2 separate regions of the Homo sapiens genome follow, and region 2 is linked to region 1. Evidence: fine-mapped expression QTL. Tissue or cell type: whole blood. Region 1 holds a variant in brackets; the other region holds the start of a gene. All regions are shown on one strand. Distances are from middle to middle.

What was found. PIP is the estimated chance that this variant, and not a neighbour inherited with it, causes the effect.
Region 2: STMN1 starts here. The variant in region 1 is fine-mapped to the expression of STMN1 in whole blood (INTERVAL, PIP 0.92).

What each region holds. Positions count from the first base shown.
Region 1 is chr1:25,968,031-25,976,131 of GRCh38, reverse strand. It overlaps PAFAH2 (platelet activating factor acetylhydrolase 2), which reads left to right. Exons shown (of 11, transcript NM_000437.4): 9 at 1,482-1,652; 10 at 3,420-3,574. Among named protein-coding and RNA genes, the nearest start is that of PAFAH2, 26 kb to the left of the region's middle. The variant A/C (reference allele first, on the strand shown) is at 4,639.
Region 2 is chr1:25,902,840-25,910,940 of GRCh38, reverse strand. STMN1 (stathmin 1) reads left to right here and starts at 4,522. Exons shown (of 5, transcript NM_005563.4): 1 at 4,522-4,552; 2 at 6,203-6,277; 3 at 7,128-7,300. The coding sequence starts at 6,265. It overlaps MIR3917 (microRNA 3917), which reads left to right and starts at 4,487; the gene lies at 4,487-4,579. It overlaps LOC105376885 (a long non-coding RNA gene), which reads right to left and starts at 4,391. Exons shown (of 2, transcript XR_947102.1): 1 at 4,295-4,391; 2 at 2,698-3,905. RefSeq lists silencers at 4,280-4,589, 4,610-4,699, 5,090-5,509, 5,289-5,583.

The DNA of each region.
Region 1 (8,101 bases):
TATGTCTCTGAGAAAGTGAAATCAAGACTGGGAAGGCAAAGAAGCCAGTCGTGTGAAGATCTAGAGGAAGATCTTTCCAGCCAGCAGGAATAGCTAATGCAAAGGCCCTGCAGTGGAAAGAAGCTTGCTGTGTTAGGGTGGGAGGAGCGTAGTGAGTGAGGGGGAGGCAATTTAAGCTGTGATCAGAGAGAGAAGCAGGGGCCAGATCACAGGGTCATCTGGCCAGGGTAAGGAGGTGTATATTTTATTCTACGTATGATGGGAAACTGTTGAAGATTTTCAACAGAGAAATATCAGTCTTACATTTTAAAAGATCCTTCTGGCTACTATGTGAAGAATGGATTGTAGCAGGACAAGACTGAAAGCCTAGAGGCTCATTAGAGAGATTCTGTTTCAGAGTCAATGTGAAAGATGATAAATTTACATCAGGATTGAGATAGTGGGATGGAGAGAAGTGATTGGAGTCAGGATATGTCTTAGAGTTTTCAGGATTTGGTCATGTGGGAGGTGAAGGAAAGAGAGGAAATCCAGGTTTTTCTTCTTATTTTTTTCCCTCTGAGACAGGGTCTTGCTCTGTTGCCCTATGCTGGAGTGCAGTGGTACAATCAGCTCACTGCAGCCTCAACCTCCTGGGCTCAAGTGATGCCTCAACCTCTCAAATAGCTGGGACTACAGGTACATGCTACCATGCCCTGCTAATTTTTTAATTTTTTTTTTTAAGAGATGGTGTCTTGCTATGTTGCCCAGGCTGGTCTTGAACTCTTGGGCTCAAGTGATCCTCCTGCCTCAGCCTCCCAAAGTGCTGGGATTACAGGGATGAACCACCATGCCCAGCCCAAGGTTTTTCATTTGTGTATCTATTATTTGAGTGGAAGATGATTGTCCTTTATTGAGATGGAGAAGAATAGAGGAGCATTTCAGGGGTCTGAGGAAGGAAATGGCAAAATCTTAAGGCCCATAATATTGCTCTTGGTGACATGGTTTTGCTGTTGGCACCAAGGAGGCTTTTCCTGACCTCACATAGAACCTTGTGCAATCAGGGCACTAAGTTATATTGTTTTGCCACTTTGTCTATTCTGTCTTCCCTGCTGGACTGGGAGCTCCTTGAAAGCAGGAACACTCATTTATGTCTATATCCAAAGCACATAGTAGACACTCAATGAATGTTGAATGAATGAATAATTAAATGAATGAAGTGCCATTCTGTGGAACTCAGGTCAGTCACCTGAGAGTAGATCCAGGAGAAGAGGGATATCTGATCCTTGTTCTCAGAGAGTTTGAAATCTAGAAGGATCTTTGGTGAAAAGTAAAAGTGATCCCTACCTAAGATCCTGACTGAAGGCCGTGGGCCCTGGTACCCCCCTCCTGGCTTTCTGAGCCTTTACCCCACCAGAGGGAGGAACTCCGCCCTTCCCTCCACCACCCTAACTATTCTTGCCTGGGATCCGCATGGCAATTCCAAATGTCTGGTCCTATTCCAGGTGTGCGGTGGCTCTGGATGCTTGGATGTTTCCTCTGGAACGTGACTTTTACCCCAAGGCCCGAGGACCTGTGTTCTTTATCAATACTGAGAAATTCCAGACAATGGAGAGTGTCAATTTGATGAAGAAGATATGTGCCCAGCATGAACAGTCTAGGATCATAACCGTTCTGTGAGTAAACCACAAGGTCGTGATCCCAGGGCCCTCTCCATTTGCCACTTGCTGTGGTGCCCTTAACTTCTGGATTACCCAAAACTTTCTACCCATTAGTAGGATACCTGAATACTTCCTGAATTGCAAAGTCTAAATTCTTTTAGAATTTTCTGTCTGTCCTTCTTCTCCACTGAGCTCCATCTACAGTGATTTATTCCATAGTTTATCTGACTTTATGACAGGATTTACCTAGTACTTTCTGAAAAAGGGCATTATGGGGTTGGGTGTTGGAAAGGAAGTGGTGTGGGTTTGGATGAGTTCCAGAGATTGCTAGCCTCATTTGGGAATTTTATTGGGTCTTTGGAAGAGTGTGAATATGGTAGACCTTTGATATTCACCAGACACATTTCTAGAGACCTTCATGAATACCAGAATCACAGATCACTGTTAACATATGTTGTCTTCCATAAACCTTCTATATTCTGGTCAAGAGAAGCCACATTTTTTCACTTCCATCATCAGCACTATCAGTTAGTTTTCTTTTGGGAGCCATTTTTCACAGGGAAAAAAACATTTTTAGTGACTTTAAGAAATGTTCCACATGTGGGAGGTGATATTGAGCCACAGATGTCGGGCTGAGATCTCACGGACTGCTCCTGCCCTGCAGTTGAGCCCAGCGGCACACAGGATCCAGGGATCCATCTGGTTCCTATTTCAGCAGAATGACAAGTGACTGCATACCATGGACCTTTGGAGTCACTGGGTAGTTGAAGTGCCAAATCCAGAGCCCTCGAGCACTGGGGCCGGCAGTATGGCCAGTGGCTTCTTCCCTTGCTCATCTTGGTCCTGGCCCTCTTTCCTAGGGCCACCCCTCCTCGTTCAGTTAGGTTTCATGGCAGTAGACACTGCCTGAATGCTTCCCCAGGTCAGATTCAGGAGGGAAAGGAGGTGAGGCCAGTTGGGAAGGGGTACACTCAGGGGACTTAACGCCTGGCAATGTATCGTTTATTCAACTGAGTGCTGGATACTCAAGTATCCCATATATTATTCTATACACCTTTTTGTGTGCCTTAACTAATGCATTTTTTAAAGTCAGTTTTTCTGTGATATCAGACAAATACTTTAGCATTTAGATTCTCTTTCTCTCACTGAATTGACTAGTAAATTCAGTTATGAATAATTTAGCCCAAAATTAACCTAGCAAGGATTTCACCTGCAAATTAAATTTATTTTCTGCCAAAGGACTTAAGTTCCAACCCAGAAACCCCCTTTTACAAAGCACTCACTCTTACTTTTCTGATTGTTTAAATAAAGGCAAGTAATTCCTTTTCCCTCTTCACTCTGTGGTACAGTTCTGAAGAATAACTTCATTTGTTTTGTGAATGTTTGAAATTCACCAGGCAAAAGCCACAGCTAATAGATTGTAGTAACATAGAAATGCCACGTGCCACAGATCCCACCTCCTTGCTCCTGTCCCTGCTCCTGCTAGCTCAACCTTTTCCCTGCACTGCCAGGCATTGTAGTCTACGGGTCAAGCCAGCTTTGAAGCCAAGCACATCTGGCTTCAAATCCTAACTCCATCCCCAACTACTTGTATGACCTGACCCTAAGCAGATAGTTTCTCTCCTTGGATTCTGTCAAGGGGGAAAATACTTCCCTTACAAGGTTGCTGTGAAAATAAAGTGTGATAATACATGAAAAGCACCTTGCACATAGTAGGTGCCTAACACACATCTGTATGCCCTAGCCGCCAGACCCCTGCCAGTTGTTTTTCTTTTCCCCTAGTGGTTCTGTTCATCGGAGTCAAACTGACTTTGCTTTTGTGACTGGCAACTTGATTGGTAAATTCTTCTCCACTGAAACCCGTGGGAGCCTGGACCCCTATGAAGGGCAGGAGGTTATGGTACGGGCCATGTTGGCCTTCCTGCAGAAGCACCTCGGTAAGGAGAAAACTGGGGCTCTTGGGGCAGCTGTGGGGTCCCTTAGATTTCCTTGCAGCAGAGTGAGAACTCTGACATGTCTGGGATCTGGGAAGGAGATTTATGGCAAATGGAAAACCTGAGTGAAGGAGAGACTTACATAGAATTACAGAAAAAACAAGTCCAGGTGCAGTGGCTCACGCCTGTAATCCTAGCACTTTGGTGGGTTGAGGTGGGAGGATGGCTTGGGGCCAGGAGTTCGAGACCAGTCTGAGCAACATAGTGAGACTCTATCTTTACCAAAAAAAAAAAAAAATTAGCTGGGTGTGGTGGCACACACCTATAGTCCCAGCTACTCGAGAGGCTACGGTGGGAGGATCAGTTAAGCCTAGGAGGTCTAGGCTGCAGTGAGCCATGATTGCACCACTGAACTCCAGTCTGAGCAACAGAGCAAGACCTTGTTTCTAAATAAATAATTAAACAAATAAATAAGAAAAAATACTTAACTGAAAGTTTGGAGATCCTGACTATCTTACTTGCAGAATGACCTGGCCTAGTCATTTAACCTCTCTGAACCTTGGTTTCCTCCCTGTAAATGGAGTATTCACCTCTCTCTACTCCACCACCTCTCTCCTTACCCAGACTCATTATTGCCCACCTTATCTGCATTGTAGGGGAGTTTATGAGGATAACGGGCTAAATTTATGGAAGTGTTTTAAAGAAACAAAGCATGGAAGGACTATGAATAATGTCATCAGTCATAGAGCAGCTAAAGGGCGAGGCCTGCAGAGGTCCATGGTCCAGCTTCCACCCAGAGGAGGCATCCTCTTATTAAGCTTTATTGGTTACAAAGACTAGAGGTTCACAAACTTAGCTTGAGAAAAAAAGGGGAGTTTGTTTATGAGAGTGCACCTGGACTGGGTGGGAGTGCAGTTATAGAAATCAGGGTGGCTGGCAGGACTGACTTTTCTTTCCGTCTGTCTCATGGGTTCAGTCTCTCTGTGTCTTCCTCTCACGACATCTCTTTTTCTTTGTTCCGTTATGCATTTTTTTTTCTGCTCTGTGGTTTTTCTCTCACTGATAGC[A/C]GCTGTTTATTCCATTTCTGCTTCCTCATAACTTCACTCGGCTTGAACCACTCAGAGTGTGTTCCCTTTAGCTTGCGGCATCCTTTCATCTTCAGCTCCCACTGCTCACTGCCATATTTTTTTGGATTTCTTTGAACAGATTTCCAAGAGAGGCAATTTGATTGTATCAGCTCCTCTTTGCCCACCAGAACACACTGTAGCCCCGTCCCAGCTAGGCTCTGAGCTCTCTGCATCAGAGGTCCCTTTCTGATCCCTCAGCAGGTGCTGTGTGCAGGGCAGTTTCCATGAGAAAGGAGCCAGGCTTGTCTGAATTTCAAAGGTTTGACTTAACTCTAACCTAAGAGCAAGATCTCCTAGTTTGTAACCCTCCTCTACTTGCCCAGGTTAACCCCTCAAGAGCTACCCATAGAAGCCTCAGACGGCACCTGGCAGTTCCCTAGATATTTGAAGTCACCTATGCTAGTCTTCTCTGAGTGTTCTGTTTATTAAACTAAATGTTCGTGGTACCTCCACCTGTCCCGGTTCAATTCCCCATGTTGCTATTTGTTATCCCCTTCCTTTGGAGTCGCTGTTTTTTGGTGCCCCTTCTAAAGTGTAGTGCCCTGGCCGGGTGTGGTAGCTCAACATCTGTAATCCCAGCTACTTTGGGAGGCTGAGATGGGAGGATTGCTTGAGGCCACGGGTTTGAGACCAGCCTGTGCAACATAGTGAGACCCCATCTCAGCAAAAAAATAAATAAAATTAGCCAGGTATGGTGGCATGTGCCTATAGTCCCAGCTACTCGGGAGGCTGGGGTGGAAGGATCACTTGAGCCTGGGAGGTCAAGACTGCAGTGAGCCAAGATCATGCCATTGCACTCCAGCCTGGGCAACAGAGTGATACCGTCTCCAAAAAATAAAATAAATAGATAAACTGTGGTGCCCTGACTTGACTATAATGTATTAGATGTGGTCTGACCGGTGCCATCCTGGACAGTCTCTTCTGTGCTCTGTTTTTTGTTTTGTTTTGTTTTGTTTGAGACGGAGTCTCACTCTGTCTCTCAGGCTGGAGTGCAGTGGTGTGATCTCAGCTCACTGCAACCTCAACCTCCTGGGTTCAAGCGATTCTCCGGCAGTTCTCCTGCCACAGCCTCCCAAGTAGCTGGGACTACAGGCATGTGCCACCACACCCAGCTACTTTTTGTATTTTTAGTAGAGACAGGGTTTCACCATGTTGGCCTGGCTGGTCTCGAACTCCTAACCTCCAGTGATCCACCTGCCTCGGCCTCCCAAAGTGCTGGGATTACAGGTGTGAGCCATCGCGCCTGGCCGTCTCTGTGCTCTGGACACTAGCCTTTTAGTTGGATGACCTGAGTGCATTCACATTCCTCACAAGTGCACAACAAACAGCCTGGATTGAGTTTGCATTTAAAACACATCTGTCTTACGCATTTATTGACTTTTTGGAAGTAAATTTTCATTTTTATATTTCTGCCTGTTCGTTTCATCTTACACATCGTGAGCCTTGATTCCAGCCTGTGTTTGGAGACCTTAGGGTCAATAAGAGATTTTAGGGCATCATTCTTATCACCTGGCAAGCAGGGAATGGACCCATGTCTCAAGACTTTAATGGCGCCTGACTGCCTGGTCCTCAGCCCCCTTCCCCTGTCCCCTCATAGGCACCATGTCATTATAAAAGCTTAAGATGAAAGATGATGGGAAGCCCACCATGGCACGATTGGGCTCCCTTTAAAAGCAATACCCGTTGAGCTAAGATACTCACTGTTAGAAACCTGCTAGCAGACATGGAAATGGGAGGTAGGAGGCACTTAGACTGAAAGAAGATTTTTGAGGACTTACTTTATGCCAGGCCTTCTGCTCCTGCTTTATCGCGTGTAATTCTAGAGACAGCCCTTTCCAGTAGATACCTTTATTATTAACTGCATTTTACAGGGGAGGATACCAAAGCGTAGGAAATTTAAGTAATTTCTTTAAGGTTATCTGGTTATCAAGTGGCAAAGCCAATATGTAACCTAGACTGGCCAATTCCAAGGCCCATGCCCTTAGTCACTTCACTATGCTGGCGGTGACTCTGGTGACAATTCAGAGTGATAAGTTCCATGGCCACAGTAGGCACTCAGTCTTTAGACTGTCCACACGGAGGACAGTCTCCTAACTTTGACAGGAGAGGAAGAACAGCTAGGAAAGGGGGCTTCCTTGACAACACAATGTTTGCCTTTAATCTTAGTGGAGGGTTCACAGGCAGGAAAGGGCGAGGGTCTTCTGGACAGAAGGCATAAATGCTTGAGTGGGCCTGGTCAGGATTGGGAAACTGTGTTTAGTGTATCTGGAGCTCAGGAGAGTGAATTGTTGAAAGGCAAAGATAGAGAAGTGGGCAGAAGCCAGAGGAAGAAGCCTATGGATTTGCTGAAGTGAGTTTGAATGTTATTCCACAGGCTGTCAGGAGCCCCTGGTGAGTTCTAAGCAGGTGAATGTTGTGATTAGACTTGTGTTCACAGTCTGGTGCATTGTGGAGGATGGGGCAAGGTGAGAGGCAGGGAGCTCTTAGGTAGGAGGCTTTTGCAGTAATCCGAGTGATAAGAGATAAGACAGTCTGAAAAAGTTGGGCACAGTGGCTCACGTCTATAATCCCAGCATTTTAGGAGGCTGAGGCAGGAGGATTGCTTGAGCCTAGGAGGTTGAAGCTGCAGTGAGCTGTGATTGTGCCACTGCACTCCACCCTGGGTAACACAGTGAGACCCTGTCTCAAAAGAAAAGAAAAAGGCCAAGGCTGTGGGCTTGGGCAAATTAGCTTTACAAAGAGAGAAAAGCTTTTAGTAGGCACACAGTACATTGTCACATGGGAAACTAAAATAGGCTGTAAGTGGCTCAGCTGAACCTCTCACTCTGAAAAAAATTCCTTCTGAGAGCACTTGTTTGGCTGTTCTGGGGATATGATCTTCTATGAAGACTGGTGCTTCCTTCATATTAACTCCATGCAGCTCCTGTCTCCACCTACTCTCCTCTCCCACTCTCCTGGAAGACTATTTCACACCTTTTTTCTCCTCGAACCTCTCACACCTCTTCCCTTATCCTGTCTCTCAGTTAACTTTGCCTCCCACTTCACCAAGAAAATGGAAGCAACCAGCACTTCCTCAGACTCCCAACACCACCTCTCCCCACCTTCCTGTGTATAATCAGCTTTCCTTTCGGTTACTAGAGTTCCCACCTCAGTTGCCTCATTAAGGCCAACCCCCCAACACAAGATTCCATCCTCTTCTGTCTGCTCAACATGATTGCGCCAGTGATTTTTCCCTCTTTATTTTATTTATTTATTTATTTATTTATTTAGGACAGAGTCTCACTCTGTCACCCAGGCTGGAAGGCAGTAGCTGCCATCTCAGCTCACTGCAACCTCTGCTCCCAGGTTCAAGCAATTCTCCTGCCTCAGCCTCCCGAGTAGCTGGGATTACAGGCACCCACCA
Region 2 (8,101 bases), 65 kb after region 1:
ATATATCAAGATGGCCTGAAGCAACTGAAGATCCACAGAAGTGAAAATAGCCTTAACTGATGACATTCCACCATTGTGATTTGTTTCTGCCCCACCTTAACTGATCAATGTACTTTGTAATCTCCCCCACCCTTAAGAAGGTTCTTTATAATGTCACCCACCCTTAAGAAGTTTCTTTGTAATTCTCCCCACCCTTGAGAATGTACTTTGTGAGATCCATCCCCTGCCCCCAAAACATTGCTCTTAACTCTACTGCCTATCCCAAAACCTATAAGAACCAATGATAATCCCACCACCCTTTGCTGACTCTCTTTTCGGACTCAGCCCGCCTGCATCCAGGTGAAATAAACAGCCTTGTTGCTCAAAAAAATAAAAATAAAAATAAAAATAAAAAATAAAGTGTTAAATGAATTGAATTTAACCCCATGGGAAGAGTTAACCCAGTAACTACAATTTCCATCAAAGGGTGAAAGTCTAATAGTCATTCACTCATTCAATAACCTATAGCAGGCCAGGCACCGCGGCTCACGCCTGTAATCCCTGCACTTTGGGAGGCCGAGGCAGGTGGATCACCTGAGGTCAGGAGTTTGAGACCAGCCTGATCAACGTGATGAAACCCCATCTCTACTAAAAATACAAAAAATTAGCTGGGCATGGTGGCGCACACCTGTAATCCCAGCTACTCAGGAGGCTGAGGCGGGAGAATCGCTTGAACCTGGGAGGCGGAGGTTGCAGTGAGCTGAGATTGCACCACTGCACTGCAGCCTGGGCAACAAAAGCAAAACTCCGTCTCAAAAAATAAAAATAAAATAATCTATAGCAATCAGGAAACATCTCTAGCAATGATACCTAACAAGTGCACAGCACTTTAAATGTGCCAGGCATTGTGCTGTTTTCATTTACATTATTTCATTTAATCCTCACCACTCCCAGAGTGCAAGTGTCTAATATCACAGAAGAGACAGAAGATCACAGAAGGATGAGAGAGGTTGTTCTTTTTTTTTTTTTTTGTGAGACGGAGTCTTGCTGTGTCGCCCAGGCTGGAAGGCAGTGGCGTGAACTCGGCTCACTGCAACCTCCACCTCCCAGGTTCATGCCATTCTCCTGCCTCAGCCTCGTGCGTAGCTGGGACTACAGGCGCCCGCCACCATGCCTGGCTAATTTTTTGTATTTTTAGTAGAGACGGGGTTTCATCGTGTTAGCCAGGATGGTCTCGATCTCCTGACCTTGTGATCCGCCTGCCTCAGCCTCCCAAAGTGCTGGGATTAGAGGTGTGAGCCAGCGTGCCCGGCCAAGAGGTTGTTCTTTCCCAAAGTTCTCTGCAAACATTCAGGCGCCATCATCCTGGGCCAGGCCTGAGGATGGGCACTGCACTAGGGATACCAAGACAAAGACAGCACCCTGCCCTCTAGGACCTAATGGTCTAGTGAGGGAGATCGATGTGTAAAACAGCAGACTCATAGACAGGTTTTGAATAGAGAAGGGAGTGTTAGAGCATAGTGCTTGAGGATTAGGAGACAAAGGGAACAGAGAGACCGGGGACAACAAGCAAACCTCTCCCACGACACCCTTTGGCCGAGGACAGGCCTCGAAAGCAGCTGTGGAACTTGGAGGCGCCATGTGGGAGACAAACCCTGCAGCCTCAAGCCCAACAATGAACAAAGGCTGCCGGGCTCTCTGGCAGGAGAGGAGATCTGACAACGGCCTGGCCCGCCGTTTGATCAGTGTAGACATTCCTTCTAGACTTTGAAGCCTGAAGTGCTCTCCTTTAGCTGTCTACACAGATCAAATAAGCTGGATGACTGCCCTATCTCCACTTCGTTGTGTGGCTCCATAGTCACAGCCAGCTCCATAACAATCCAACCAAACCATCTGAGCAGAAGCAAAAATAATTCTTATGGGCAAAGATAGACAGTTCCAAGATGTGAACATTAACTCCTTGCTGCCACTTCAGAAGAGAGTGGATCTTGAAGTTCGTTTTAGGAAGCTTTCGAGAAGGGCGATTCTGCCCCTCTCCAAGGTGAAGTGGCAAAACTGTTGTCTCTCCTTACAGTTGAAAGCCCTTCCTATTCCAAGGCTTATATAGGACACCCACAAAAGCTGACAATAATGAGCTGTGATCTGGCTCTTGGGAAGGCAGCCCCACCCTAAAGAACAAGGATCAGACTGGGTGTGGTGGCTCATGCCTGTAATCCCAGCACTTTGGGAGGCTGAGACAAGAGGATTGCTTGAACCCAGGAGTTCGAGGCCAACCTGGGCAACATAGTGAGACCCTGTCTCAATTTTTTTTAAGTCAAATAATAATAATAATAATAATAATAATAATAATAATAATAATAATAATAAAAGGACAGGAATCCCACCTCAAAAGCACCTTTTTATTCAAAGGCTCATTCTAGGGGAAACTTTAACCCAGCCCTCTCAGTCCTCAAGCAGCTGTGAGGAGCTTGGAACATTGTCACAGACTGGCAGAACCAGGCATCTCCCAACAAACCCAGAAGCCAAGTGGCATTGCTAAAAAAGATTAAAAATGAACATGAGTTCTAACATCTACGTTCCTTGCTATGGTTTCCATGGAAATAGACATCTGCTCTAGGGAGAAAGAAAATGTGGGGGGAAGCAGTGTAAGTGCTTTCAAATTATCAGTGTTTTGAAAGATTTATTTCTTTTTTCTGTCACAACATTAATAGTCAGGAATGTGAGACTTTTGTGTGGCAATTTATTGTACTTAAAAAAATGCATTAAATGAGTGGGACCTTCCTCTGTGAACCTCCAGATCAAATACAAAGACTTCAAGATAAAAAGCCTGTTCAGTGGGTAAGGACCTCTTGGGCTTGGGTTCCTTGCTCATTTGTGTTGCCTGCCTATCTGTCGCTTTCCTGAGGGGTCTCATGCCCATCCTTCTCCAACTTTTCTAATGATGTCTGAGATTCTGTTCAGAAAAATGACAGACGGAAGCACCTAGCCATTTTGAAGCTAAGTTTGGTCTGAGAAGAAGCCTTTCAAGGCTCAGTATCTGAATTATTCCTGGTCCTGCTCACAGGCTAAGTGAAAACCACTTCGATTGGCTTGGGGGGGAGGCCGACCCCACACAAGGGCGATTGTTGGAAAAAATGCCGCAACAAGCATATTTCAGGCAACAGCGCATTGCTAATTGTTTGCTTTGTGTAGTGTGCTGCTGCTTGTATGATCCAGTTTTTATTGTCTTGGGCACCCCTTAGTTGTATTTTATCTCTGGCACATCCCTGGTGACTAACTAGGCATGAGAGTCTTTCTAAATTAGGACTGTTGTTTCAGGAAGGTTGGTCACATTTGTTTCTTGATTTGGGGAGATGCAGCTCATTAATAAAATAAAGATATCTCTTCTGCTTAGTCAAGATCTCAAAGCAGGTGTCTTGGTGTATTGACCACCAACCGAGGACACGGTCTTGGTCAGAGAATGGGAGGAGGCGGGGACCATGTTCATTTCATTTATTTTTTTCCCCTTTTTGTGAGAGAAAGGGCCAGTTATTCTAAGGCACGGTCAGACCAATTTCCTTTGTGCCTTTGCTGAGGTTCTGAGCTATCCAGGTCAGGGAGAACAGTGACCTTGTGGCTCCTTTTTCGATTTTTAAAAAGAACCCAGTGCTGCTCTGGGGAGCACGTGCTCTGAGAACAAAAGCAACACTTAACTGCAATCTGTGTAGTCTAGAACGGCTATTGCTCTTCCTCCCCTATCATCCGCAGAAGGCTTGGAAGAACAGATGGAGTCTGCATTTAAGCTGAGTGGCTTTGTTAGACCAAAGGCGATCAAATTCCAGAGCCCCACGCTTTCCCGCACAGGTCCCTGGTCACCGGCTCGGGAACCTGAGGATGCTGGCAAGAACGCACACAGTGAGGGAAGGGCCACGCCCGCGACCTGTGGGCTGAGTGGATTAGAAATTACGATGATGTCACAATATGGGTGACACGCCGGTGTCGGTGTAGGGTGCCGGGGGCAGGGGGCCCTGCAGGGGCGTGGAGTGGCATTGTGCTGTCACAGGGGCTCGGGCGTCTTAGGCACCCATGTGGGTGGCGCACTAGAAGGGGCACTGCTCTGTCCGAGTGCTGCCCTTGGGGCGAGGCGGGCATGTGGCTCTACAAGGTGGAGTCCAGGCGGCCAAAGTTTGGAAAGGTAGGGAAGGACCCCCCCGCCCTCCGCCTGCTCCGCCCTGCCCTTGTTCTCGAGAATGGGGAGCTGGTTCGGACCTAGTCCGGGGTCCACTGCCACGCCCTCTTCCACGGCGAGACCACCCCCCTAGTCCCAGGCCCACACCTGGGGATGCTCCCCAGGCGCCCTGCAACCCCCGGCATTGTCCTCCTGCCCTCCGGGACAGGACTACACTTCCCGAGGTGCTTCGGGGTCCCGGGGGGCGGCGCTCCACGCGGGTTGTGGGGGGCGGGGGCGGCACGTGCCGCCGCTCTCGGCCAATGCGGAGCCCCGCGCGGAGGTCACGTGCCTCTGTTTGGCGCTTTTGTGCGCGCCCGGGTCTGTTGGTGCTCAGAGTGTGGTCAGGCGGCTCGGACTGAGCAGGTGGGTGCGGGGCTCGGAGGAGGCGGCGGCTGGCTGAGGCCAGCAAGAGGGACGCGGTCGGCGGGAGGGGCTGGGCCGTGGCAGCGACCCCCTGCTGCAGGGCGGCGGGCGGGGCTGCGGGCCTCGGAGGGGTTGGTGGGCGGGGGTCGCTCCGCTTTGTGTGTGGCTCGGGCGGAGCCTCGCCTTTGTCCCCGCTCTCCGGGGGCGCGGCTGTTCGTGGGCAGGGGGCTGGGCGATCACCGGGCGTCCGCTCCGGGGTGCCGTCGAGGAGACAATAGGGGGCGTGGGCCCTCGTTTACCTCCCTCCCTCCCTCCCTTCCCTGCGGGCCCCGCCGGGTTCCCCATTGTCTGAAGGGACGGGGCGGTGCCCCAGGGACCAGCGGCTTTAGGACCAAACTGCGGGCAGCCAGGGCCGCGACCCTCCCTGCGACCGTCCCCTGGCGACCGCAGCTGGTGATTGAGGGGCGGCGCTCCCGGGCCCCACGAGGGTTCTTCTGTCTTCGCGGCCGGACGCGCGGACAGCGTGGGTGGCGGCAGGTTGGGCATGGGGACGGCGGGAGGCGGTGGCGAGCTCACCGCGGGACCACCCGGGGGCCTGTTCCCGGGGCCTGCCCCACCCGCTGAACTGTGAAGGGGGTGGTGGCGGCGGCCTGGAGGTGTTTTTGGCGGGAGTTGGGGGGGGCGTCCGCGCAGGGGGAGTCAGGCAGGGGCGGAGTTACCCGGATTGGACCGTTAGCCCCGCCCACCCCTCCCCTTCCCACGCGCGCGGGCTCCGGGGTGTTGAGTTCGGGGAGATTCGAAAAGGCGCGGGGAGGAAGGGGGCGGGGCCAGGGGCCGGAGCGCAAGGCGTGCTCTGATTGGCCGGGGGCGACCGGTCCTCTTTTCCTCGCCCGGACCAGGGCCACGCCCATCCTGGGTCCGGTGCTGCGTCTAATTCTCTGCTTTTCTTAAATCTTGTCGCTGCCTCTGATTTTAATTCCTAGCTTTTGGGAACCTGTCATCCTACGTTTTTGGTACTAGCTGGCGTCTACAAAAGTCATAATGTTAAAAAGATCAACAAGAGATACAGCATTTTTCATGACATAACGGCAGCAAATATAAGTCAAAATCTAGAGGTTCATAAACATTTTGCTTGCTGTTGGGCAAGGAAGCTTAAACCTGAGGGACAATAGGAGTTCAACATTATTGGTTACTATTAGCTTGGGCGTTTTCTTATCCACCACGTCAGACACAGACAAAGCAGGGGTGGGTATTTCATTTGCACAATGAGTTGTAGGCAGTATTAAGATGGCTCCGGGGGCACTGTTGAGTTGAATCTGGAATATCTTCTTACAGTTTCGGTGAAATGTTAAAGAGTTTATGGGGGAAAAATTCTTCACCCTTGTGACTTTGTCTGATTTTAAAAATCCAAGAGTTTTATGACCGAGAAAGCTCAGTTAACTTGATTTTCTGGAACCAATATCATATTCAGGTCATATTTCCCAATGTTTATTTAGTAGATTTTGATAATTTTTTTCGTGGTTAATTTAGACGTCTTTATTCCACGTATTTTTCTGACGATGTATGTAGATGTGATGTGAGATTTTTTTGGGTTGATGACATATAGAAAGGCAAAGAAAGTGATTGCATGTTTTTGAAAATCATTTTCAGGACTTTCCTTATCCCAGTTGATTGTGCAGAATACACTGCCTGTCGCTTGTCTTCTATTCACCATGGCTTCTTCTGGTAGGTAATCTATTTGGAAAATCTGAAATTGTAATGGGCTTATGATTTTAGATTGAGATGGCTCAGGTCTTCGCCTTTGATTTGGCACTTATGTTTTGGTCTTACCAAAACCTATTTTATGAATAGGAGAAGAATTTAAAAATGATTATCACTTGAATGTGCCGAGAGCTCGTAATTGTTTATTGGACAGTTTGGCTTAGTCTGAAGCAAAATTGTGGAGTTTGCACAAGTCTTTTGTTTATGAAAGCGATTGTCAGATACTGATGTCTCAAAACAGTATTTATTAATCCAAAAATGTTGAGCTTTGTTTTTCTGGGAGATGGTTTTTATTTTTTTTGAGACAGGGTCTCACCTTGTTGCCCAGGCTGGAGTGCAGTGGCTTAATTATAGCTCATTGCAGCCTTGACTTCTGGAGCTCAAGTGGGCTCAAGCGATTCTCCCACCTCAGCCTCCATAGCATCTGGGACTATCGACATGGGCCACCACACCCACCTAATCAAAAAAAATTTTTTTTGTAGAGATGGGCTTTCCCTTTGTTGCCCAGGCTGGTCTCAAACTTCAGGGCTCAAGGGATCTTCCCATGTTGGCCTCCCACGGTGCTGGGATTATAGGCATGAGCCATGGTACCTGGCCTTGGGAAATGGTATTTAGATAATAATATCTTGCCTGCAAATACATCTTCCCCTAGTGTCAGTAGACTGATAGGAATAAAAAGGGGAAAAAAAACACAACTTTCCTCATCAGCCCTAGTTTAATACATTAAATTGATTTGGGTTTTAGAAAATTATAGTACAGTTTATTAGAACAGGAGAATCCTGGTTTTCTGAATTATAAATATAATCAATTCTAGATATCCAGGTGAAAGAACTGGAGAAGCGTGCCTCAGGCCAGGCTTTTGAGCTGATTCTCAGCCCTCGGTCAAAAGAATCTGTTCCAGAATTCCCCCTTTCCCCTCCAAAGAAGAAGGATCTTTCCCTGGAGGAAATTCAGAAGAAATTAGAAGCTGCAGAAGAAAGACGCAAGGTAAACGAAGCAATTCACAGAAAGCAGGATATTAATTTATGTAATGGGCAGATCAATTTTATTTCTATAACAGGAAGAAAACAGAATTGTAGCTACACTGTGATTATTACATATGCCAGTGACTGGAAGGAAATACCAGTCCTCATTTATTGAACTCCTGTTACATGCCCGCTCCTTTGTTTATATTTTTCTCCTTTAATACATGGTGTTGCCTCAAATAATGGAAATTAGAAACAGTTTCAGGAATGTTAAGTCGTTTTTCTGCAGTCATACAACTAGTAAGTGTTGGGGTCAGAATTCAAGCCCTGGTCTATCTTAAACCAAAGCTCATGCTTCTCTCATGCTTCCTCTTTGAAAAGATTTGTTGCCAGATGATTCTTTGGCACTTTGGTTTTGTTTTTTGAGAGCTGTACAATAACATTTTAAATTGCTAGTGTGATTGTGTTGCTCAGCTGGTATCATGGTAGCTTTTCTCTTATCTAAACAATTCTATTATAAAGTAACTATCTTTAAAAGCTAATCAGAAGAATCAATAAATATTAATATGCTAGTTGTAGAAAATTTGGGAAATACAGAAATTTATAAATGGAAATTAAAAGTATTCATTATCCCGCTTCCGAGAAGCAACCAGTGTTAACATTTTGGTGTGTTTCTTTCCATTCAATGTTACTCATTAACAACTGTACATAACTTTTCATTTAACTCCCTTTCTCAACAACCCTGATAGGATTGATTTTAAAGCTGGGGCAAGTGAGGCACAAAAGGTAAGGTAATAACCTTCCCCAGACCAGCATAGTGATT